Linked DNA regions of Homo sapiens. The protein of the gene in region 2 interacts with the protein of the main gene of each other region in a biochemical or structural test. Each region holds a gene or a part of one and is shown on either strand. Other genes may lie near its edges.

The links.
Region 1: the proteins of NCKAP1 (region 2) and NYAP1 form a complex in vitro, tested with the Homo sapiens proteins (one study listed by BioGRID).

What each region holds. Positions count from the first base shown.
Region 1 is NC_000007.14:100,485,887-100,497,834, reverse strand, and holds the end of NYAP1 (neuronal tyrosine-phosphorylated phosphoinositide-3-kinase adapter 1), read right to left. Parts: intron 11,015-11,948; coding exon 10,653-11,014; intron 9,684-10,652; coding exon 8,169-9,683; intron 7,319-8,168; coding exon 7,106-7,318; intron 6,850-7,105; coding exon 6,740-6,849; intron 4,190-6,739; coding exon 3,932-4,189; 3' UTR 3,033-3,931; downstream 1-3,032. UniProt on the Homo sapiens protein: Activates PI3K and concomitantly recruits the WAVE1 complex to the close vicinity of PI3K and regulates neuronal morphogenesis.
Region 2 is NC_000002.12:182,907,703-182,919,650, forward strand, and holds the end of NCKAP1 (nck-associated protein 1), read right to left. Parts: 3' UTR 1,413-11,948; downstream 1-1,412. UniProt on the Homo sapiens protein: Part of the WAVE complex that regulates lamellipodia formation. The WAVE complex regulates actin filament reorganization via its interaction with the Arp2/3 complex. Actin remodeling activity is regulated by RAC1.

The DNA.
Region 1 (11,948 bases), on a different chromosome or scaffold from region 2:
CAGTGGTGCGATCTCGGCTCACTGCAGCCTCTGCCTCCCGGGTTCAAGCAATTCTCCTGCCTTAGCCTTCTGAGTAGCTGGGATTACAGGTGCCCGCCACCACACCCAGCTAATTTTGTATTTTTAGTAGAGACAGGGTTTCACCATATTGGCCAGGCTGGTCTCGAACTTCTGATATCAAGTGATCTGCCCGCCTCGGCCTCCCAAAGTGCTGGGATTACAGGCATGAGCCACCTCACCCGGTCTAATTTTCTGGCTAGTTAAAAAGAGCTACTGCCTGTTTATATCTTGGGTTTTGTTTTTTGTTTTGTTTTGTTTTTTTCAAGTTGGGGTCTCACTCTGTTGCCCAGGCTGGAATGCAGTGAAGGGATCATAGCTCACTGCAGCTTCCAATTCCTGGGCTGAAGCGATCCACCCATCTCAGCCTCCTGAGTAGCTCCAGCTACAGGTGCTCACCACTACATCCAGCTAATTTTTATTAATTTTTTTTGTAGAGATGAAGTCTAGCTTTGTTGCCCAGGCTTGTCTCAAACTCCTGGCCTCAAGCGATCTTCTAACCTTGGCTTCCCAAAGTGCTGGGACTACAGGCATGAGCCACTGTGCCTGGCCTGTATTTCATCCCTAGCTCTTTTCTCTAGCCCTGCCCTCCTTGCAGAGGTCAGCTGTGTTGGGCTTGAGTGCCATTTCTATGTCAATTACTCCTAATGTCCATAGTCTTGTCCTGTCTCCTGAGCTATCATCATTTTACTTTTAACTTGTTTCCTAAATTTCAAATACTCACATACCACTGTCATAATTTTTCATATTCTGTACATTGCCTGTACTATTATTTATTGGCTTAACATTTTTTCTTTAAACCAGCTCATTAAAAATAACTCTAGACTTATCTTGTGTAATCACATTCATGAAATAACAAGTAGCCTTATGTATTGGTTATAACTTTTCTAATATAAGTGAAAATAAATACAAAACTATTACAGTTTAAAAAAAAATGCTCTTCTTCATAAAGTGTAAAAACATCTCTTGTGGCATCTACCACATTTTTTTTTTTTTGAGACGGGGTCTCACTCTGTTGCCCAGGCTAGAATGCAGTGAAGCAACCATGGCTCACTGCAGCCTTGACCTCCTGAGCTCAAGCGATCCTCCCACCTCAACCTCCTGAGTAACTGGGATTACAAACGTGTGCCACCAAGCCCAACTATTTTTTTTTATTATTGTTTGTAGAGATGGGGGGTTCTATGTTGCCCAGGCTGGTCTTGAACTCCTGGCCTCAAGTGATCCTCCTGCCTCGGGCCTCCCGAAGTGCTGGGATTACAGGCGTGAGCCACCACGTCTGGCTATCCACCACATTTTCCGAAACTCTGTTCTATTCAGTAACAAACCATTCAACCTAAATATTCATCATTGCTTCAAATTCAATGTTCTTCCTCCAAAGTCACTCTCAAGCCCACCTGCCTCACTCTGTCAGTTCCCCGATCACCAGACCTCCAAACTTGGGCTTCTTGTATGACCAATTCTGCTCCTTCACTCCCATCCTAAGGTTTCCTTTCAGTGGCCTCTTGCAACTGTCCCTAGCCCTCCATCCTCCCAGGCATCCTCCTTATCCTCCTCCCTGGTGACAGATCACCTCCCAGCAGGATTCCCCTGGCTTCCCTAGTGAGGACCTGAGTCTTGCCTTGTGGCCCGCTTCACCATGGCTGGACCCCCTTCTTTTTTGAGATGGAGTTTCGCTCTTGTTGCCCAGGCTGGAGTGCAATGGCGTGATCTCGGCTCACTGCTGCAACCTCTGCCTCCCGGGTTCTGGCGATTCTCCTGCCTCAGCTTCCTGAGTAGCTGGGATTACAGGCATGCGCCACCATGCCCAGCTAATTTTTTTGTATTTTTTAGTAGAGACGGGGTTTCTCCATGTTGGTCAGGCTGGTCTCGAACTCCCAACCTCAGGTGATCTGTCCCATGGCTGGACCTCTTAATGCCATCACCATCATTTAAACATACTTCCTACCTCCCCCTGCCCCCATCTCCTACTGTTCCATAGACAATCAAAACCATGACCGTGACCTTGGGAGTTTGCCTCTTCCCCTCCCCAAACTTCACCTGTCCTTTTTTTTTTTTTTTTTTTTGAGACAGGATCGCATTCTGTTGCCCAAGCTGGAGTGCAGTGGCATGATCTCTGCTCACTGCAGCCTCTGCCTTCTAGGTTCCAGCCATCCTCCCACCTCAGCTTCCTGAGTATCTGGGACTAAAGGCGCATGCCTTCACACCTGGCTAATTTTTGTATTTTTTGTAGAGATGGGGTTTCTCTATGTTGCCCAGACTAGCTTACCTGTCCTTTTAGGGTAACTTTGCAGGAAGCCTTCTTAGATGATTCCAGCCCTGTACCCCCTCTTTTTTCTTTTCTTTCATTGTTGTTGTTGAGACAGAGTCTCGCTCTGTCGCCCAGGCTGAAGTGCAGTGGCATGATCTCAGCTCACTGCAACCTCCACTTCCTGAGTTCAAGTGATTCTCCTGCCTCAGCCTCCCAAGTAGCTGGGATATATCGCCACCACACCCGGCTAATTTTTGTATTTTTTTTTTTAGTAGAGATAAGGTTTTACCATGTTGGTCAGGCTGGTCTTGAACTCCTAACCTCAGGTGATCTGCCCACCTCGACCTCCCAAAGTGCTGGAATTACAGGTGTGAGCCACCACGCTTGGCCCTGTCCCCCCTCTCTTACTCCTTCAACAGTTTATTGTCATCTCAGTGGAGGTCATCTGAGTAGATCACAAGGTACTTGAAGGCAAGCTTCATGCCCAAATATTCCTTCTGCATCAGTGCAATGCCAAGAACACATTCTGTGCACAAAAAAAATGCTAATGGAGTCATGGCCCAGTGCATTCCCAAAGACTTACCTGGAACTCCACCTCGCCCTGTGACTTGGCCACAGCTACTCACCCCTCCCCGCACAACCTTCAACTCCCACCAACCAGGGGCAAGATGGGAAAAGGAGCAAGTGTAAGAATAGCAGAGCACGCTGTGAAATAGAAGAAGCCAGCTTTAGGATCATGAGTCTTTTAATATATTATTCTGAAAAGAAAGGAATTAAAAAAAAGTTCCTGACATCTCTTCTGTTTTGTTTTTTAATTTAAATAAATACCCTGCCCACCCCCTCCACCCGCTAAAATTTCCCTCCTCCTCCCCCATCATCCTGCCCATCCCTGGCACTAGACCCTCACCCCAGAACTAAATAAGATGCCTGATTCAGAGCAGGCCACACTGACTACCAAATTCTGGCAAATTGTAAATACTGTGAATGGTCTTGGGCCCTCTGCTTCCCTGGGCCCCTTCTTCTCTCGGTCCACTCCCCATGCAGACCCCTCCTTGGCTGTGGGGTGGCATGGACGGCGGGGCCTTTAGGCATTGGCATTGGGGAGAGTGCAAACTTGGCCCTGATTCTCCACTCCTAGCTCAGGAGTAGGTCAGAAAGGCCCAGAATCGCCCTCCAGACTGAAATAAATAACAAAATAAATACCCCCTCCCCAACTCCCGGCTCTCTAGAAAAGAGCTCCTCCATCTGGCACTCTAGTCCCTCTCTTTCAGCTCACCCACCCCCCTCTTCCTCCCATCCCTTCCTTCCTCCCTTCCCCATGCTGACCTCTGGCTTGGTTCAGGAGGAGGGGTGTACAACGCCCAGCGGGAAGAACAGCCAGAGCGACTCTCGCCCCAACCTCAAGCAAACCCTCCTCCTCCTCCGTTTCTCAGCAGCGCTGTTGGCATCCTAAGCCCAATGGGCCTGGCAGACTCTCCCCATCCCGGGGGGTAGGTTGGAGGGCAGGGGTTCTCCCTGGCACTCTCCCACGTAGTCTTTCAATGTCTCTCAAGGCGAGGCTCCCGGGAGAGCCAGGCGTGCCCGCCCCCTCCCCAGTCCAGGCGCCCCGGTACCCCCCCGCCCGCCTCAGATGGCGGTGTCCCAGAGGACCGTGTGCTGCCGGCGGCAGGGCGGGGTGCCGGACTTGCGGGGCTCGGGTCCCCGCCGCCAGCTGGGGAGGATGGGCATGCTCTCCTGCTTGCAGAGGCCTCGGTCCGGGCGGTGGCGCGCCTTGATCTCCTTGCACACGCAGCGCTTGCGCTCGATCACCTCCAGCAGCTTCCCGTCACGCTCGCGGGCCGGCTGGGGCGGCAGGGGCAGAGGCAGCGGCAGCGCGGGGTGGGGCTGTGCCGCGGGCGGGGGAGAAAGGAAAACGCGGGTAAGGTCGGGGACCTCAGCATGACCGGACGGGTCCGCACTGCCGAGACCCACGTCTCCCCTCAGAAGCAAGTCCTTGCTTGCCCCCCAACGGCCTCTGCTGGCTCCCTCTGGCTGTGGGGCCCATGGGGGCCAAAATCCAACTTGCGCAGCTTTGGCCCAGCCACTCCCTAGTCTTCCTAGACAGGTGCATTTTTTAAGTTGGTCCCCCTAGAAGGGATCTCCCCTTTTTTTTCTTTCTTTTGTCTTTTTGAGACAGGGTCTGGCTCTGTCGCCCAGGCCAGAGTGCAGTGGTGCAATCATAGCTCACTGCAGCCTCGACCTCCTGGGCTCAAGCAATCCTCCAGTGTCAGCCTCCCTCCCAAGTAGCTGGGACTACAGGCATTTACCACTACACCAGCTAATTGTTAAAAAATTAAATTAAAGTTTATTTTTGTATTTATGGGATCTTGCTTTGTTGCCAAGCCTGGTCTTGAACTCCTGGCCTCAAGGGATCCTCTCATCTTGGCCTCCCAAAGCACTGGGATCACAGGTATCAACTACCGTGTCCAGCTGGGGCAAGGGTAGACAAGGTCCCTCCCTTCCTCCTTTCCTCCCTTTCTTTCTTTCTCTTTTCTTTCTTGCTTTCTTTTCTTTCTTGCTTGCTTTCTTTCTCTCTTTCTCTCCTTCTCTCTTTCTTCCTTCTTTCTCTCACTCTCTCTCTTTTTCTTTCTTTTGACAGGTTCTCCCTCTGCCACCCAGGCTGGAGTGCAGTGGAACGACCATGGCTCACTGCAACCTCCACCTCCCAGGCTCAAGTGATTCTCCTGCCTCAGCCTTCAGAGTTGCTGGAACCACAAGCATGCACCAGCATGTCTGGATAATTTTTAAATTTTTTGTAAAGACAGGGTCTCCCTATGTCGCCCAGGCTGGTACAGAATTCCTAGGCTCAACCACTTCTCTTGGCTCGGCCTCCCAAAGTACTAGGATTATAGGCGTAAGCTACCATGCTTGACCTCTTTATTTTTATTTCTTTTGAGACACGGTCTTGCCCTTACACCCAGGATAGAGTGCTGTGGTGGGATCGTAGTTCATTGCAACCTCAGCCTCCTGGGTTCAAGCGATCCTCCCGTCTCTGCCTCCCACAGTTCTGGGATTGCAGGCACAAGACATAGTGCCCAGTGGGGAGGTCTTTTTCCTAAATCGCACAAAGGTGTGCTGTTGGCTAGTGGTGGCCCTGACTGATCTCCAAGCTGGGCCCTACCTTGCTGCCCATCTTAAGCAAACCCTCAAACCCTTCCCAGATCCTCTCCCAACCCCCTCACTCTCATTCCTGGGTTCCCGCTGTCTGCGCTGGCTCAGGCCCCAGTCTGCCTGGCCCCTTTTTTTTTTTTTGAGACAGAGTCTAACTCTGTCGCCCAGGCTGGAGTGCAGTGGCATGATCTTGGCTCACTGCAGCCTCCGTCTCCCGGGTTCAAGCAATTCTCCTGCCTCAGCCTCCCGAGTAGCTGGGATTACGGGTGCCTGCCCCAATGTCCAGCTAATTTCTGTGGGGTTTTTGTTTTTTGTTTTTTGGTTTTTTTTGAGACAGAGTCTCTCTCTGTTGCCCAGGCCACTGGAGTGCAGTGGTGCGATCTTGGCTTACTGCAACCTCCGTCTCCCGGGTTCAGGCGATTCTTATGCCTCTGCCTCCCGAGTAGCTGGGACTACAGGCGTGCGCTACCACGCCCGGCTAATTTTTGTATTTTTAGTACAGATGGGATTTCACTATGTTGGTCAGGCTAGTCTTGAACTCCTGACCTTGTGATCCACTCGCCTCAGCCTCCCAAACTGCTGGGATTACAGGCATGAGCCACCGCACCTGGCCCTAATTTTTGTATTTCTAGTAGAGACAGGGTTTCACCACATTGGCCAGGCTGGTCTCAAACTCCTGACCTCAAGTGATCTGCCCGCCTCGGCCTCCCAAAGTGCTGTGATTACAGGCGTAAGCCACCGCACCCTGCCTGGCCCCTTTCTTTCTTTTTTTTTTTTTCTTCTAAGACAGGGTCTCACTCTGTGGCTCAGACTGGAACGCAGTAGCGTGATCATGGCTCAATGCAACCTCCACCTCCCAGGGTAAAGCCATCTTCCTACCTCAACCTCCAGAGTAGCTGGGAATTCAGGCTTGCGACGGCACACCTGACTACATTTTGCATTTTTTATAGAGATGGGATCTCACTATGTGGTCCAGGCTGGTCTCGACCTCCTGGGCTCAAGCAATCTACCTGCCTTGGCTTCTGAAAGCATTGGGATTACAGGTGTGAGCCACTGCAACTAGCCTTCTTTTAAAAAAAAGAAAAAATAGAGACAGGGTCTCACTATGTTGCTCAAGCTAATGAACTTCTGGCCTCAAGTGACCCTCCCACCTTGGCCTCCCAAAGTGCTGGGATTACAGGCATGAGCCACTGTGCCCAGCCCTGGCCCCTTTATTGCTTTTCTTTGCATATTCAAGCCTTCTCCACCTGCTCCTTCACAAATAAAAGAAAAACCAAGCCTCACCTGGCTCAGGGCATCCCTGGGCTGGCTGCAGGGCCGGGGTGTGTGGAGCACGACCTGCCGGACTCCGGAGGTGGAGGCGGAGCGCCCCAGGCGGTAGCCTCCCGTGAAGTCTGAGGTGGAAGAAGGAGGAGTGAGGAGTGCAGGGGCCTCAGGTACCCCTCCCCTAGTTCCCAGTCCCCTGCCCTTGAATGGTCCAGGCTGCCCCTGCCTCATCAGAAGGGAAAAAGGGGTGGAGATGTGGTATGAGGATTTAGGGCCCTGGGCACAGACGTGAACAGGTGAGAGGAAGTCAGGACAGGTGCAGCTAGACCCCGGGAGATCCCCCAGCCAGCCCCGCTGTGCACAGGTGTGTGCAGGCCGCGTCACCTCCATTGCGGTGGCAGGCGGGGAAGGTCTGGCAGGGAATGGGCAGCGCGGTGCGGCTCCCTCCTCGGTCTCCATGGTGGATCCTGGCCAGCAGTCCCTCTGCCCCCTGGCTTCTCACTGGGATCCCCGATGTCCCAGGGCCCCTGTCCTCACGCTCCACCTTGCCTGGACCCTCGGCACTGCCATTCCAGGCCCGGGCACCGTCCTCGACCTCTGCTGGGATGACAAGGAGAGCTGTGTGCCTGCATGTTGGAGGCGTCATTCTGTCCCTCTGGCCACACATGCTGCAGTATGGGTGGACCAGGAGACACAATTGCCCCTTTTGCAAGTAACGGCTGGGATGGGGCTCCTTCACACTCCCCCAACATACATACAAACACACACACACCCCTTCCTTTCCACCCATTGGTACCATCTCTTGGGGCTGAGAATCATGTCTATGTGCTGCATCCAAACCCTTTTCCCTGGTCAGAGGGGCCTCCCCAACCGCAGCTTTAGCTTCCAAGCCCCTCCATCTCCAGATAGGGCGAGAATGACCATCCCCCTGGGATCAAGACCTGTAGGGGGAGAATCCCAATTCCTGAGCCCAGAAGGGGGAGCGCTGGGGGGAAGGGCTGCCTGTGAACTAAGCTCATCTCTGAGAGGAGGCCTGGCAGAGCATTGCGTTGCCAGGCAACGGTAGGGGCCTCCCTCTCCTCTCCCTCCTGTCTGGATGGGTTGCCATGGTAACAGCTGGGAGGCAGCTGTGTTTAGTTCCTGGTGCGCACACTCACAAGCACACACCCCTGCAGCCCCGGGAAGGGAGGGGCAGGGAGCAGAGCAGGACAGGGCCAGATTTGACCCCCTTCGCCTCCCAGACCTTCCTGCCCCTCCAGCGCACACTGGGGGACCCCGGTCTTTCTGTCTATCGCCCACCCCCACCTCTCTGGTCTCCTAGAAAACATCCCAGACTCAAGGCTGTGACTTCCAAATAACCCCTCCAACACCTCCCCCAAACCATCGCAGGCATCCCCAGCTGCCCCCCACCCCTGATGCCAGCCCCCACTCCCCACCCCTCACTCACTGTCCAACTCCTTTGCTTTTCTCCCTCCATAGAGGACCTTCCTCTGCAGGGCCCAGCCTGCCCCAAATGTCGCGGCGCCCACCTCCTCTTCTTCCTCCTCTGGTGTCCCTGCGCTGGCGATGACGTGGGCACAGGAGATGCTGGCAAAAGCACCCCCATCGGTCCCTTGCTCCTGCAGCTGGATCTTGACCATGGGGGATGGGGCCCCCACACCACAGCCCTTATTCAGCACCCCCCCAGCCTTGAGGCTCTCATAGGCAGGGGGTCTCTTGAGCCCAGCTGCTGTGGCTGGGTAGGTCCACAGCGGGGTCAGGGGGCCTACAGTTGGGTCCGGAAGGCTGTGGGGGGAGGCCAGGCAGCCGCGGTGGTGGAGGACCCCAGCTGCTGCGCCCATGGCCCCACCGTGGGGGCTGGTCTTCCCTGGCACAGGGGGCCTTGAGCTGGTACACAGCATCCCATGGAGGACCGAGATCTCCTTCTCCGTCTTTGGCTCCCCAGCACCCAGGGGTGGACCAGCTGGCAGGACAGAGTGCGTGGTCACCTTGACCGCCGAGTACACCATGGTGTAAGACACGGCCTTGTCCTTGGGGGGGCCGGGGAGCAAGGCGGCCGGGGCAGGGGGGGCTGCCGGCGCCCCCGCCGCCTTAGGGCAGATCATGCTGTGGGAGTTGGGGAGCTCCCGCTCCCCCCGGGGCTGGCCAGAGCCCTGGGGTGGCAACGGTGTCGAGTGGCTCCGGGCCCGGCCCGATGGTCCCAGCAGCAGCAGGTTGGCAGCAGGAGGTGGAGGCGGTGGGGGAGGCGTCTCCCGCTCCCGTGCAGGCACTTGGGGAGCTGGGGTGGAGCCGGCTGGCTCCTTGGAGTGGCAGAGGACAGGTAGCCTTGAGACCCCATCGCCAGGGGTTCGGGAAGCAGACTTGGCTTGGGGGAAGGCCAGGAGTGGAGGCCGGTGCTGAAGGAGGTTGGGGAAGGGCGGGGGGATTTCACAAGGAGTGGTCTTGGTGGGCGTCCCGTCCCTCCGGCTCGGGAGGGCTGAAGCTGGGCGGCGGTGGGCATGGGGCGGAAGGGCGTGAGGCTGTTGTGGCGGGGATGTTGCCGTCAATGGTGGAGGGCCATTGGCCCGGCCTTCCCCAGCCTCTTCCGGCAGCGGGTACTTCATCTCTTCATAGATGGCCTCACTCTCTTCAGAGTCCGAGTCGGCGCCCGCTGGAGGGGTCGGGCCCCCACCCCCAAGAGGGGGCCCAGCCAGGCCTCCTCCACTTCGTCCTCCTCCCCTAAAGACGTCCCCCACCATCTCAATGTACACAGGCTCTTCCTGGGCACCCACATCAGGGTCCCCAGCTACTCGGGACCCCCTAGTGAGGCGCTGAAGAGGCAGGTTCCCCCCTCGAGGAGAGGGGCCTGGGGGGCAGGACTCATCGAAGGAGACAGAGAGCTGGGTGTTAGGGCTTCGCCTGGGCTTCTGCGGAGGAACCTTCCGGCTGGACTCTCGGCCCTCTGGGGTTGGCTTCTGTGAGCCTGGACAGGACAAGAAAGAGAAAAATAAACCAGGCTTTTAATGAGGGGAGCAAGTGGGAGGAGCCCATTCTGATCCCTTGACCCTTCTGCAAGGACATATCTGCCTCTTCCTTTTCCCCACATTCCTCAACTTACAGCCCCAGGAGGTTTCTTCATTTCTTTTTTATTTTTTAATAGAGATGGGTCTTGCCATGTTGCCCAGACTGGTCCCAAATTCCTGGGCTCAAGGGATCCTCCTGCCTCGGCCTCCTAAAGTGCTAGGATTCCAGGCATCAGCCACCATGCCCAGCTGTAGGTTCCTTTTCTACTAGTCAGCCCTTGGTCTTTTTAAAACGTCAATTAATTGGCCAAGCACAGTGGCTCACGCCTGTAATCCCAGCACTCTGGGAGGCCGAGGTGGGTGGATCACCTGAGGCCAGCAAGCCTGGCCTTGTCAGCCTGGCCAACAAGACGAAACCCTGTCTCTACTAAAAATACAAAAAATTAGCCGGGCGTGGTGACGGACGCCTGTAATCCCAGCTACCTGGGAGGCTGAGGCAGGAGAACTGCTTGAACCTGGGAGGCGGAGGATGCAGTGAGCTGAGATCGCACCACTGCACTCCTGCCTGGGCAACAGAGCGAGACTCTGTCTCAAAAAAAAAAAAGTGCTGAGATTACGGGCGTGAGCCACGGGGCTTGTCCCACAGCCCTCAGTCTTTCTAACGTATTCTCCAGAATTCGCAGCTCCTACCTTCATTGTCCCTCTGAGGCCACCACCCCTTTCTCAAGAACTTTTCAGGGAGTGTCCCCTGCCCTTGAATGGTTCATCTCAGGCCCATCCAAAAGGACCCCCCCAATTCCTTTTGAGAATGGAATCTTCCACTTCCTTGGTTCTTCCCTGAATGAACCCTCCCGGCAAGCCTCCCCGGGCGTGGAATAGATCCTCCCAGCTCCCAGCTCCACCCCAGGGAGAGATAGGGGGTATCTCACCTGCTTTCTTGCTGGGGGGCGTCTCTGCCCCAGACCCAGGCCCCACCATGCTGAGCTTGGTGCTGGGGTGTCTCCGGGGCTTGGCAGGGGGTCTTCGGGTGCTGCTGTCCTCTGTGAGGCCCCCACTGGCCCCGCCAGGGCCACCCCCGACACTGTCCATGCTGCCCACCGAGTGGCAGGAGAGGGAGCGTGGGGCCATGGCGCTGCGGCAGGGGTGCGGGGTGTGCTCCTGGGAGGCGGGCATCGTCATGAAACCCATCCTGAGGGAGCGCCGCAGCGAGGCGATGTCCCGCACGCGGACCCCAGGCCCCTGGCCGGCCGCGGGCCCAGCCGAGCCAGCGGGGGCCACCTCCTTACTGGAGCTGGGGAGAGAAGGCCACGATGGAGTGGAGGAAGGGCCTCGGACCTGGGCATCCCCCTTCTCCACCCCAAGAGGTGTCAGCAACCCTGTGGCTTCCCAGGGAAGAGGACGGGAGCCTGGGTGGGGACAGGGTTGCCAGAAGGTCCAGGGCACCAATGAAGGGGCTTCAGGCAGAATCTTGGGCTTTAAAAACACAAGGCAGTTGGGGGCAGGGATGAGAAGAGGGGTGAGTATGCCTGCAGGGGAGCATCCCTGGGGCTGGCGGATCCCAGCCTGGGCACCTGTGTGGACAGCCTTGTGCAGAGGTAGAGATACAAACCCAGGTAACACAGATGGACACGCCTGCCCCCCACAGCTCCTTGGCCCCTCTCACTCTCACAGTGGCCCACACCTGGCCTCTGGTTACCCCTCCTGCCCAGCCACTGTGACCTCTGCCCCCACGGCACACCTCCTCTCCCAGATGCAGGATGTGCCCCTCCAGGACCAGAGCAGCCTCCCTCCCTGGCCCATCCTTCTTCCTCCCTCTCCCCTGGTGCTGTTCTCTCTCTGTCAGCCTCCCCGGCTCACCCCCATTCCATTCCACTGTCCCTGAGCTTCTGTCTGAGTGGAGGGTGGCAGAGGGTTGGGGGGGCGGCTGGCAGGGAAGAGAGGAGAGCTGTGTGGGGTGGGCACTCATTAAGGCCCTGTCTACTAGCCCTTCATTAGGGAGAGATCGCTGCAGCGATCACTCTGATTAATCTAATTAACAACAAGAATTAAACTCCACAGTTGCGAGGAAGGAAAAGGGAGGTGGCTGTGAGTCAGGCTCCAAGTGGCTGTGAAGTCAATGGGAGAGAAGAGGAGAAGGAGAGAAGGATGGGAGAGGCCAGGCCCCAGGTCCCTGGAAGGGCAAGCGGGGAGGCAGACAGGGATTGCAGGGGTCTGGAGGTCGTCCC
Region 2 (11,948 bases):
AAGGGAACAGGAAGTGCTAAGAAACAATTTTTAAAATATTTACACATCTGACAATAAAACAACAGACTGTTAACTGGAAGTTACTAATGGAAAAATCTTTCAAGAAGAGATGGTATATAGAGATTGAAAGAAATCTTTGAAGAGGAAATACAGTCTCCTGCAAGCATTCATTCAACAAATATTTTACATGTCATGCAATGCAATTATTCTTAATTTTTTCCCTTCCATTTGACAATCCGATAAACAATAGAAACTATTTCCCCAGGAAAAAGCACACATGTATATAAATATTAGACCTAGGCTGGCTGCAGTGGCTCATGTCTGCAATCCCAGCACTTTGGGAGGCCCAGGTGGGCAGATCACTTGCACCCAGGAGCACAAGGCAGGATGAGGCAACATGGTGAGACCCCATCTCTACAAATAAAAAATAAAAAAATAAAAATTAGTTGGTGGTGGCGCACGCCTATAGTAACACCTACTTGAGGGGCTGAGTGGGGAGGATCATTGAGCCCAAGAAGTCGAGGCTGCAGTGAGCCAAGACCATGACATGCACTCCAGCCTGGGGACAGAGAGACCCTTTCTCAGAAAAAAAAAAAAAAAAAAAAAAGAATAAAACCCACATGGGGAATTTTTTTTTTTTTTGAGACAGAGTCTCGCTCTGTTGCCCAGGCTGGAGTACAGTGGTGTGATCTTGGCTCGCTGCAAGCTCCACCTCCCAGTTTCATGCCATTCTCCTGCCTCAGCCTCCTGAGTAGCTGGGACTGCAGGTGCCCGCCACTACGCCCAGCTAATTTTTTGTATTTTTAGCAGAGACAGGGTTTCACCGTGTTAGCCAGCATGGTCTCAATCTCCTGACCTCGCAATCCGCCTGCCTTAGCCTCCCAAAATGCTGGGATTACAGGCGTGAGCCACTGCACCCGGCCAAAATGGGGAATTTTTTTAATCTTGAAAAACTGGATATAGTTCGTCAGCCTAACTATTTAAAAGTTCTGTATGGCTAAAAAAAAAATAAAGACAAATGATAAGTTTAGAAAACATTTGCCAAATATGTGATAGACAAAAACAATTTCATTAATATGTGTACATTTTGTTAATAAGTGACCTCTTACAAGTCAATAAACATACAAAAAAGATGTTCAACCTCACTCAGACAATATTTTTCATCTATCCAATCGACAGAGGTTAAAAAATTGGATAATATCCATTGCTGGACCATGAGGACACAGGGATCATATATCGCAGATGGGAGTGTCAACTGGTACAACTGTTATATGATAATGTACCACATTTCTGGGACTTTTTAAAGCATATATATTTATCCAAGTGCTCAAATATATATATTCAGATGTTCACTACTGTATTTTTTTGAAGAATGCAATCGGACTGTTCAATAGGACACATAACACATTTAGGCTATTTCAAGATAATGGTTTATTTTGACACCACCAAAAGGAATGTAGATCTCTCTGTTTTGATCTGGAAATAGGTTCAATACACATTATATCAAATTTACCGTTTCAACCATTTTTAAGCATACAGTTCTGTGGCATTAAGTACATTCATGTTGCTGTGCAACAACCACCATCATCCACTGTCAGAACTTTTTCGTCTTCCCCAACTGAAACTCTGTTCCCTTCATACACCTTCTCTTCATTTCCCTCTCCTTGCCAGCCCCTGCCAACCAACATTCTACTTTCTATCAATTTGACTATTTTAGGTACCTAATATAAGAGGAATTATACAATATCTGTTCTTTTGTGGCTGGCTTATTTCACTCAGCATAATTAATGTCTTCAAGGTTCATTCATATTGTCTCATGTGTCAAAATTTCTTTCCTTTTTAAGGCTGAATAATATGCCACCGTACATATATATCTCATTTGTTTTTTGATTCATTTGTTGATGGACGCTCGGATTTACTGCCTTTTCTTGTATGTTGTTGTTTTATTTGTTTAAGTAAACAATCACTTTTAAAGCCAAGGTTTCCTTGAGAAGATATTTAGGGCACAGGACACCAAAATACAAATAAGTCAACTAGAAATGAGAATTTTCTGTGCTCCATTTTGAATTTGATTTGTAGTTCTCAGAATAGAACAGGGAGCCCAACCTGAGCTGAGCTTCTTGGGTACTCCTAAGAAAAACACTTCCCTGGAATCCATTCTCAGCCACCGATTTAGATAAGGGCCAAATAGCCTCCTGATCCAAGGCCACAAATTCTGTCACATTTGGTGTTCAGACACGTATAACCAAGTCTGTTGGAATGGATGGGGTGGGAATTCAGTGAAGGCCAAAATACAAAAGAAAATGATAGGGTCGCAGACAGAAAGTTTTATTCTAAGGAGTTCAACCGCTGAGCCCTAGAGTTAAGGAGAAACAGTGGTTTCTGCAAAGCTGTGGTAGCTGGCTCTTTAACTGGTTCAGACTCTACTATCTTGGAGGACTGCAGGTGCCCTGGTAGCCAAAAGGGCTCTAAGTTCAAACTCAAGGAGCTGCCTCACTAAACTCTACATCATTTTGGAGTCCAAGTAAACCTGCTGTGGGACAACCCTTGCCACCCCACTCAAGCTACAGTTTTTGATTGAGTAGGAAAGCCAGCATGATTTGTGTTTCTGCATCCAGGCAAATGTACTAAAATTCTTTGAGAGATGAGAGGAAATATTTTTCAGAAGCTTGGAGGTCTGAGTACACATGTGGGGAAAACAGTGATTATAAATTGGGCATGGATGTTAATGTATACTCATATGTGCCCACAACAGTTGGAGCCTTGGGAACAAGGAAGTTACACTGCCTCGGCAAAGAAAGTGCTTTTCTCCACTGGAACTGCAAAGGAGAATCTCAGCTCTAGGAGAGCCTCAGACCATTCAGGATTCAGAACCTAGATAGATGATGCTGTGAGGGCTGCGGCTGTGCTCTGCACTTCTGTGTACGTCGAACAAGACAATAGATGTGAAAGAGCAACCCAGAAGTTAGTCCATGTTTGGTGGAAAGGGGTCCTCAGCACCCTCATAGGTCATGCATCCTCAAAACCTTTTCTTCTAGGAAATTCCTGGCAATGCAATCTAATTTCTTCACTCCTCATCTTGAGGGGTAAGTGGGCAAACATCAAGAACACTGGCTTATCAGCAACCTTCAGAGAAAGTTACTGAGAAGAAGGTGATTGCTAAGTATTTACAGATTAAAGACTCAACCTGTATTCATGCTCTGATGGTCCAACATTATAACTTGGAAATAAAAATAAAATCCTAAGCTCCCCCCCCACATTTGACTAAACAGACCCTCTCCTGGCCAAGAGGACTTCAGGGAAACCTTAAAAACTGAGTTCCCGGCCATGATGGGATGGGAGGTTGGGCACATCTCATTATACCCCCTCCTCACTAACTACCATTAGGTGTTCTTTCCTAAGAGTTAAACAGAAACCAGCCCTTTGGAAAGACCTGTTGCACCTCTGATTACAACCAACCTCATGACTACCCCTCCCTTTTTGCTCTTTGACAACTGACCAGCATTCCTTCCTATTAAGGGAGTCCACTGACCATGGAGTGGTTCTGGCCAGTCTAGGGAAGATGCAGTGAGGGTTTTTGTGTCCTCTGCTTCACCTTTTGATGTCAGAGGGCTGAAAATCCCACCCTTGGATCATGCTAACACCACTAAGCCTTACATAGTGGGGAATTCAAACACATGGGAAGGGGATTAATTCACAAAACAGCCTATACTATATGAATAAGACCAAAAAATGGCCATCAGTTCATGACTTTATTAACTTATATAGTTAATACATGTTTTATATACTGTTATAAACAGACTATGTGAAAAAATTTGAAATATAAACTCTTAAACCATGAAAACATAAGTCAAAATTCTGTTACTTCAAATGTTAAATATTTCAGTCATCTATGAATGGCCATCATAATGATTTGAAACTAGCAAAGTTATCAGTTAGGTTTGCTATATCCTTTTTTTTCTCCCAAGCTGTTTGAGCTTTTATGTTAACACCTATACTACTACAATGAGAAAACAGATTGCTGTTGATGGGAATTATTAAAAAAAAACAAAACAAACAGAACCGCTTTTGGAGAAACTTGCCCTTATATACTCTCTTATAATTGCCTCAACAAATTCAAGATGGTTATACTTTTTAAAAAAGTTTTTCATGATTTTATTAGAAAGCAGTAACTGCATTTCTGGTAGGCCTTTCTGATAGGTCACTTGAGAATGACTTTTGCATTATTCATGCATTTTCCACAATAGACACTTCATGTCTTTGAATTATTTTAGTTGGAGTAGGAAATGCAAACAAATCGGCAAATGGACTTAGCCCTTGAAAGCTTATGTCCAGCTGAGTAGTTATATCAATCACATCATGAAAAATTCCTTTTACCTAAAAAACTGCTGAAGTTCAGAGGTTGTAATTTTTTTTTCTCAGCATAGGACAGACTGAAAAAGAAAATGAAGACCATCTTAAAATATCTTTGGATATTGGCAAAAATTTAGGGAGCTTTTTGATATGAGAAAAATATGCTTTTGCCTTTAAGGCAACATGTTGCCCATTACGTATTAATAAACTGGATTCAACAAAGACATTCTTACCCATTGCTAAAAATCAACCAACTATAAACAGTTACCACAGTTCTGTTTTTGCCAGTGCCAAAAAGATTTCCAAATCTTTTCAGCTAAAAAGCCAGCAAAGATCAAAGAGTTTTCACATGAGCTCTCTATGTGGCAATGAGATACAAGTGCCATCTTTTAGCACATTATAATAATCCTGTTGTGCAGTACTCCTTTCCAATGACCTGTAAAAATTATATATTCAGAAAGGCATTTTTCTCAGCAAAAGGGAAAAAGTACGAATTAGGAAAGGTACATTTAACAAGCTCAATGATCTATTATAAGTTAATACACTTTTTCCCCATTCTGTGGAGTTCAGAATTATAAATGCTTGGCTAGTTAGCCATAATAAAAATGGAATTTGAATGTTAGAGTGCAACCTGACAAAATGATTTATTACTCCTTCGTCATTGAAACTAATACACGCTCTAACCTTTATAGCTTTTCACTTACTCTGTTAAGCATGCCTTGCACCAAATTAAAATATGTGCACTAGCACAATACTATAGACAGATCTCAAAACCAAAGAAAGATAGAGGAAGAAAGGAAGGAAGGAAGGAAGGAAGGAAGGAAGGAAGGAAAGAATTCAGCCAGATGAACTTTAGTTAAGTGCAATTTATGTTTTTGCTAATGGCATCATACTAATTTTCCAATGCATTCACCTATCCATTGGCCATGGTTACTATCATTGAAACTTTCACTTGAGCCTCTGTTCAGTTTTGACGTTACCATGTTGAATAGTTGTTATTTGTTTTACTGTCTGCCTCCTTCATCAGATGATGAGTAGTGACCCTAGTTTTACAGTCAAGATCAAACATGTAAAGTCTGTCTCCTCCACTATATTATAAGCTCTGTGACATCAAGGACCAAATCTGGTTCATGTACATGCCAAGCATTTAGGACACTATGTCCTGTGTATTTATTGATTCAACAAATATTTATTGAGGACTGTTGTGGCTTGAATGTGTCCCCGAAAAGTTCATGTGTTGGAAATTTGGTCCCCAGTGCAGCAGTGTTGAGAGGTGGGACTTCTGGGAGGTGATTGGTTCACAAGAGCTCTGCCCTCATGAGTGAATGAATTTATTTCTAGATTAATGGATTGATGGGCTATCAAGGGAGTGGGTTAGTTACCACAAAAGTGAGTCTGTTATAAAAGTCAGTTTGGCTCTCTCTGGTGAATCCCACCCCCACACCATGTGATGCTCTGTGTTACCTCAGGACTCTACAGAGACCCCACTAGCAAGAAGGCCCTCACTAGATGAGAACCCTTGACCTTGTACTTCCCAGCATCTAAAATGGTAAGCAATAAATTTCTTTACTTTATAAATTACCCAGTCTCGGGTATTCAGCTATAGCAACAAAAAATGAACGAAGATAAGGACCTTCTCTGCACAGGGCCCTTTTGATTGCAAGAAATATAATCTAGTCAAATTAATTAAAATGAAAAAAGAGTCTACTTCCTAATTCTCATCCTCTCATGCTTCTTTGCTTCTCTGTCTGCATCTGCCTCATTCTTTTTTCCTGATCAGCACTCTGATGCTCTCTGCCCCCACAGCCTGTGGAAATACAGGAAACTTCACAATGGTGCACAGTCCATACTCCATGAAACTTTCTGCTTAAGTAGCCCCCACAACCCTCAGCCTCTTGGTTCTAACTTAGTGAGAAAACTCTGATAAGAACCCACCATTTACAAGCTATTGGACTAACTCCCCTTGGATCAGTTTTCTTCCCTCATTTAATCAGTTGTAGCCAGGGAGAAGTCACATATTGGTATCAGAGTGTGCAGTCACAGAAGGAACTCCCTTTAGCAGTATCTCCCCTTAAATGAAGTTATAGTTAGGGCAGGTAATCGTAGACAAGACTAGTTAAACTGTGTTTTTAGTTAGCTTTGTTTTGTATTTTATCATTCTGTCCTCAGTATCTAGCACATAGTAGGTATTTTAAAAACTATATTCATTGAACTGATGTTAGGATATGACATAATATATTATTTCTAACTTTTATAGTTTATGTGAAATGGGGAAGGCAAGTGGAGGGAGCTGACGTTTTGGACTCTGGACAGATACAATACATACCTGCTGCCAGGATGAATAGATTAAAACAGGCAATTTCTATTTCTTTAACTTTCCTACTCAAGCATTGTTTTTAAATGAAAACTAACTCAGCATATCAAGCTTTAAAAAACCAATTAAAAAATTAAAAGAGGAAATGGAGATACTCTAGTATGCAATTTATATGAAACCCATTACCCACTATAACCATCTTTGAGGACACTCTGCATTTTAGAAGTGCCACAATAGCATATTCTCTCCTTTTCTGGTTCCCTTTAAAACTTAAGTCACTTAGAATGACATGAGGGGTTCTATTACTAATTTGAAGAGTAAAAAGAGTAAAAAGGAACAAATTCCCCTCTAATAAATTACCCCCACAGAAAATATGCTGTGAGGTGGGAAAGGCTGATGGCTAGACCGACACTGCAGAGTTCCATTGGTAGAGATGCGCTTTGTGTAATGTTGGGAGCAAGTAATGATTTTTCCTCTTTGTTCTTGTGGAGGGATGCTTTGGGTGCTCAGAGGAGCATTGACTACCTTTTCCATCCCTTCCCTTTAAAGAAATCAGATTTTGTAAACAGTGAAAAAACCAAGAGCAGATGTGATCATTTAAGCTGGGAATGCAGCCATACCGGGTGTCAGAGCATGTTGTGAGCACCTCTACCTGGGTGTCCCCCTAGGGCTACAGCTGCTCTCAAGGTCACTTCCTCTCACACAGACAGGCAGTGAAACTCATGCTGAGGACTCATCTTCTGTACACACTTTTAAGAACTTCTACTTCCAAAGATACAATGAAGTTAATAAATGAAGCAAAGCAGATTTCTAGACTAGGCTTCACATAGGGTGGCTTGCAGCATTTAGAAGCATTTCTCTAGACACCACACCTATTTTCCAACTGTAATATTCTGTATAGAATGCAAATGTTCAGACTTTGCTTTTCAAAAACGTTGTATGGTTCACAGCTGAAGAGAGAATAGTTGAGAGTTGAGTGATCTATCCTTCAAACTACAGGCATGATATTCCTTCACTTGCCAGCAACCCTTGGACCTCTGCAAGGATGTGACAGGAATAGCACAACTCACTAGAGCAGGTATCAGCTGCTCCCTCTAGTCACTTTCTGGGTGCTGTGACCTCCAGCAGCAGAGGCATTCATTCTCCAAGGGTGTTCTATGAGCCTTATTGGTCCTCCCTGTACGATCAGCTGCGAAAGAACTGCCAGTGCAATCTTGAGACTAGATGAGGAGTTACACTGACAGGATAAAATTTCAAGGCTTGCTAATCCTTGTGCATGATGACATGAGATCATCAGACCAGCTTGACTATAGGAGGCATTTCTGTAAAGGGGTAAGATTACAGTTAAGTGTCTCACAGCTCCTGTCTTTTCTATGAAGTACTGACTCTAGCTAGGGGTGAGTCACCAGAATAAAATGATCATTTATTTCAGGACAATGACCTGAGTAGTCACTTTGAAATTTTTCTGATGGCCTCTCTTCTTTGCTCTTGGCATTTCACTTAAATTTTCAGATTTAAAAATAATTTTTTTGCTACGTGGAATGCCTTTTTGATCTATTGCCAATGCTTTCACCTTTTGTCTATTTATACAAGGGGCTCAGATTCTGCATCTTCTCCCCCTGACATCCCAGACAAGTGATTTGTCTCATTGGGAGAAATCTTAGAAACCATGTCTTCGGGGCAGTTTCCTCTCCCTCCCCGTCTCCCTGCTCCTGCTCCTCCCTCTCCCCCTCCCCCACTCCAACTCTCCTTTTCCCTCTGCCATGTAAGAAGTACCTTGCTTCCCCTTCGCCTTCTGTCAAAAAAAAAAAAAAAAAAAAAACATGTCTCTGTGTCATCACTGAGCTGCTGCTATTACAGGTGTAGAAATCCCCAGCTGCCTGTATCTCTGATGCTTCTCCACAGGAACAAAAAGAAACAGAACCACTTGTTCCCAACATGAAGCTAAGGGCATCTGTACCAATGGAGGTCTGTAGCATCTGTCCAGCCACTGGCCTTTCCTAACTTAAAGTAAGATTCTGAGAGTTACACAGGGTAGGAAATTTGACTAAACAGACAGAAAGATGAAATAAACCTAGACCGTGACCTCAAGGCAGTCCCAGAATCAAAGGAGTCAGAGATAAATAATAATTACATTATGATTCAATATGTACTATAATAAAGGCATTTATAAGGTTTAGAAGAAACAGGATGGCATGGTAAGGAAAGGGCAAGTGATGTTTGAGCTTACTGTTTACATTATGTTCAGGAGTTTGCCAGCCAGAATAAGAGAACATTCCATTCCAGAGACAGGGAACAGCATGTGGAAAAGCACAGAAGCTTCCAAGAGCAATTGTCGCAATTGTTCTGGATACTGCAATAACATTTGAAAATACAAGCTTTACATCTTATACATTTTTGTGTATAGTATATAAAAATATAGTATAACATACATATAGTATAGAGCAGTCTTAAAATTAATTTTAGCATCGTTTTCTGTTAAAGTTACATGACAGGGAAAATAATCTTTCCCATTTAAGATAAAGACTCCGATCAGAGCTATAGAATAGACTAACACACAAATGTTACATTTGCATGAGTGGAAGTTCTGATATTATAATACTCATAAAAGCCATGAAAAAACTCTTTGAAGGCAATTTTATAAGTGAAACCAAATAGCCTAATAATACTGGAGAAACTACCACCATTTACACTGAATGCCTACTTTGTGGTAGCCTCTTCTTCCCCACCATCTCATCAATTTATACGCATGATCTTATTTTAATGCTTACAATAGCCCTTTAAAGTAGATATTATCCACATTCTACACTTAGGGAAACAAACTTGGAGAAGTTAAGTAATTTGTCCATAAGTGACAGAGCTGGGATTCAAACCCCAGATTTGTTTGAGGCTGTGGCATCATACTTCAAGTCATATCCACGTCCAAAATCCTACCAGGAACCAGTAGCTGTTTATCATTATGAAGACTATTACTGCATAAACATAAGATCAGCATATATGCGGCAACACAGCACAGTGGAAGGAACACTATATGAGCACATCGCCACATATGTTAATTTGGTTAAATTACCTAACTCTTGAATAGGTTGAACCAGATAATCTCTAAGGCTCTTCCAGCTACAAATGACTAAAATGCTCCATCATTACAATCATTGATACATAATAGGTTGCCCATTCAAGAATTAGCTATTATCTTGAAAATAAGTTCATCTTTCATAAAGGCAGAATTAATCCATCAATCACATTTAGAGAGCTCTTGGCACGAACTTTAATATTAGACCAAGTGTTGTATGTTCCAGTGTAGGATCTCACTTCAACAGCTGCGTTACCTTCAGAAAATAGTAAAAACCATTTTTGTTAACATAGAGAGTAAGTACTGTGTGAGCTTGAGATTTAAAACTAAAACAAATATTTTTAACATTCACAAATATGTGACATATTATCTACTATATATGTGGGATAAGACAGCCTAGGAAAGAAATCTGATTTACTAGAGATTAATCTGAGCAGGATCAGAGAGAAAAAGTGAAGAAGCAAAGAAGCAACTTAGACCCATGAAGGCCAGAAAGTGGGCATAGTGTCCCCAAGCCCACAGTCATTTACCCAGGAAATGTTTTTTAGTGCTTTGGGAAAGAACATGATACAGTAGAAAAAATATGGGCTGGAAATCCTAGAGCCTTAGGTTTTAATCTCAGCACTGCCACTCAAACTCAGTAATTTTATGACACTGGGGCAAGGAATTTAAAGTTTTATGAGCTGGTTTCCACATTCATTTACAAAAATAAAGAAAACAATCCCTATTGAGTAATTTGGTTGTGGAGTTTAAATGAAGTAATGGATATGAAAATGTCTAGTATCAAGAGTAGCATAATGTAAGCCCTCATTGTTATTTTTTTTGTCCCTCATTGTTAATGTAAAGCAGTTTCAAATGCTACTGGATAGAATTTGATCCAGCAATCCTACTACTGGGTATCTACCCAAAGGAAGTCAATATATCAAAAAAAATCTGCATGTGTATATTTATTGCAGCACAATTCATAACTGCAAAGATATGGAACCAACCTAAGTGCCCACTGACCAATGAGTGGACAAAGAAAGTGTGGTATATATACACACCACGGAATACTGTTCAGCCATAAAAAAAGAAACAATGTCTTTTTGCAGCAACTATGATGGAGCCAGAGGCCATTATTCTAAGCAAAGTAACTCAGGAACAGAAAACCAAATACCGTATGTTCTCACTTGTAAGTGGGAGCTAAGCTATGTGTATGCAAAGGCATACAGAGTGATATCATGGACTTTGGAGACTCAGAAGTGGGAGGATGGGAACGGGTCTAGGGATAAAAAACTACACATTGGGTACAATGCATACTACCTGGGTGACAGGTACACTAAAACCTCAGACTTCACCAATGTATGATTCATCCATGTAAACAAAAACCCACTGTACCCTAAAAGCTATTCAAATTTTTAAAACATTAATTAAAAAATGCTATTGGTTAGAAAAGTCCACACTCACATTTGAGAGATCTGAGACACAGTTTAATGAGAAGAACACAACTCTGGGGCCAGATTTAAATGTTGGCCTCTGCTACTTCCTTGTAGTGTGAGTTTGTAAAAATTGCTTTGTCTTTCCTGAGCTTCAGTTTCCATATCAATAAATGGGGGTCATCATGATATAGGATTACTGTGAAGACTAAAAGAGCAATATTTAGAGGTTTGAATTAGAGAAAACAGAGTATCTGGTACACAATGGGCTTTCAATAAACATTAGCTCTCATTATTATTCTAGTCAGCATTTTTGGCTTGATAAAACCACAACTACCAGTTAAGGTCAAATTTTCCCCTCCTAGCCATCACAAGTTCTGCCATCTGGGCCTTGCTTCAGACTGCAAAGACCCTTGTACCTTTTGGCTGAAGGTAAGAATTCAGAATGAACTGACATTCAGCATTAACCTGTAAAGTTGTGTACTACCTGCTCCTCAGCTTCAGCTTCAACCTTTGCAAGATCTAACAGTTAAATGGTTAAATGACTACCTACTTCAATGTGCTTTCTGGCAGCCAGAATCTGCATGCAATCAATGACCATGTGACTAACGTAAGTTATGGTCATACCTAATTAGTATGACATTCTGATTATTAACTGGATATTTCCTCTCAAATAAAGATAAACATTCTATATGTAACTTGGAGTGAAACTCATGTGTTTTATACATTGAATGCTATCAGTTCAAGGGTGAATATGCCTTCAGAATGCAAGTGCTTTTTTTTTTTAATGTAT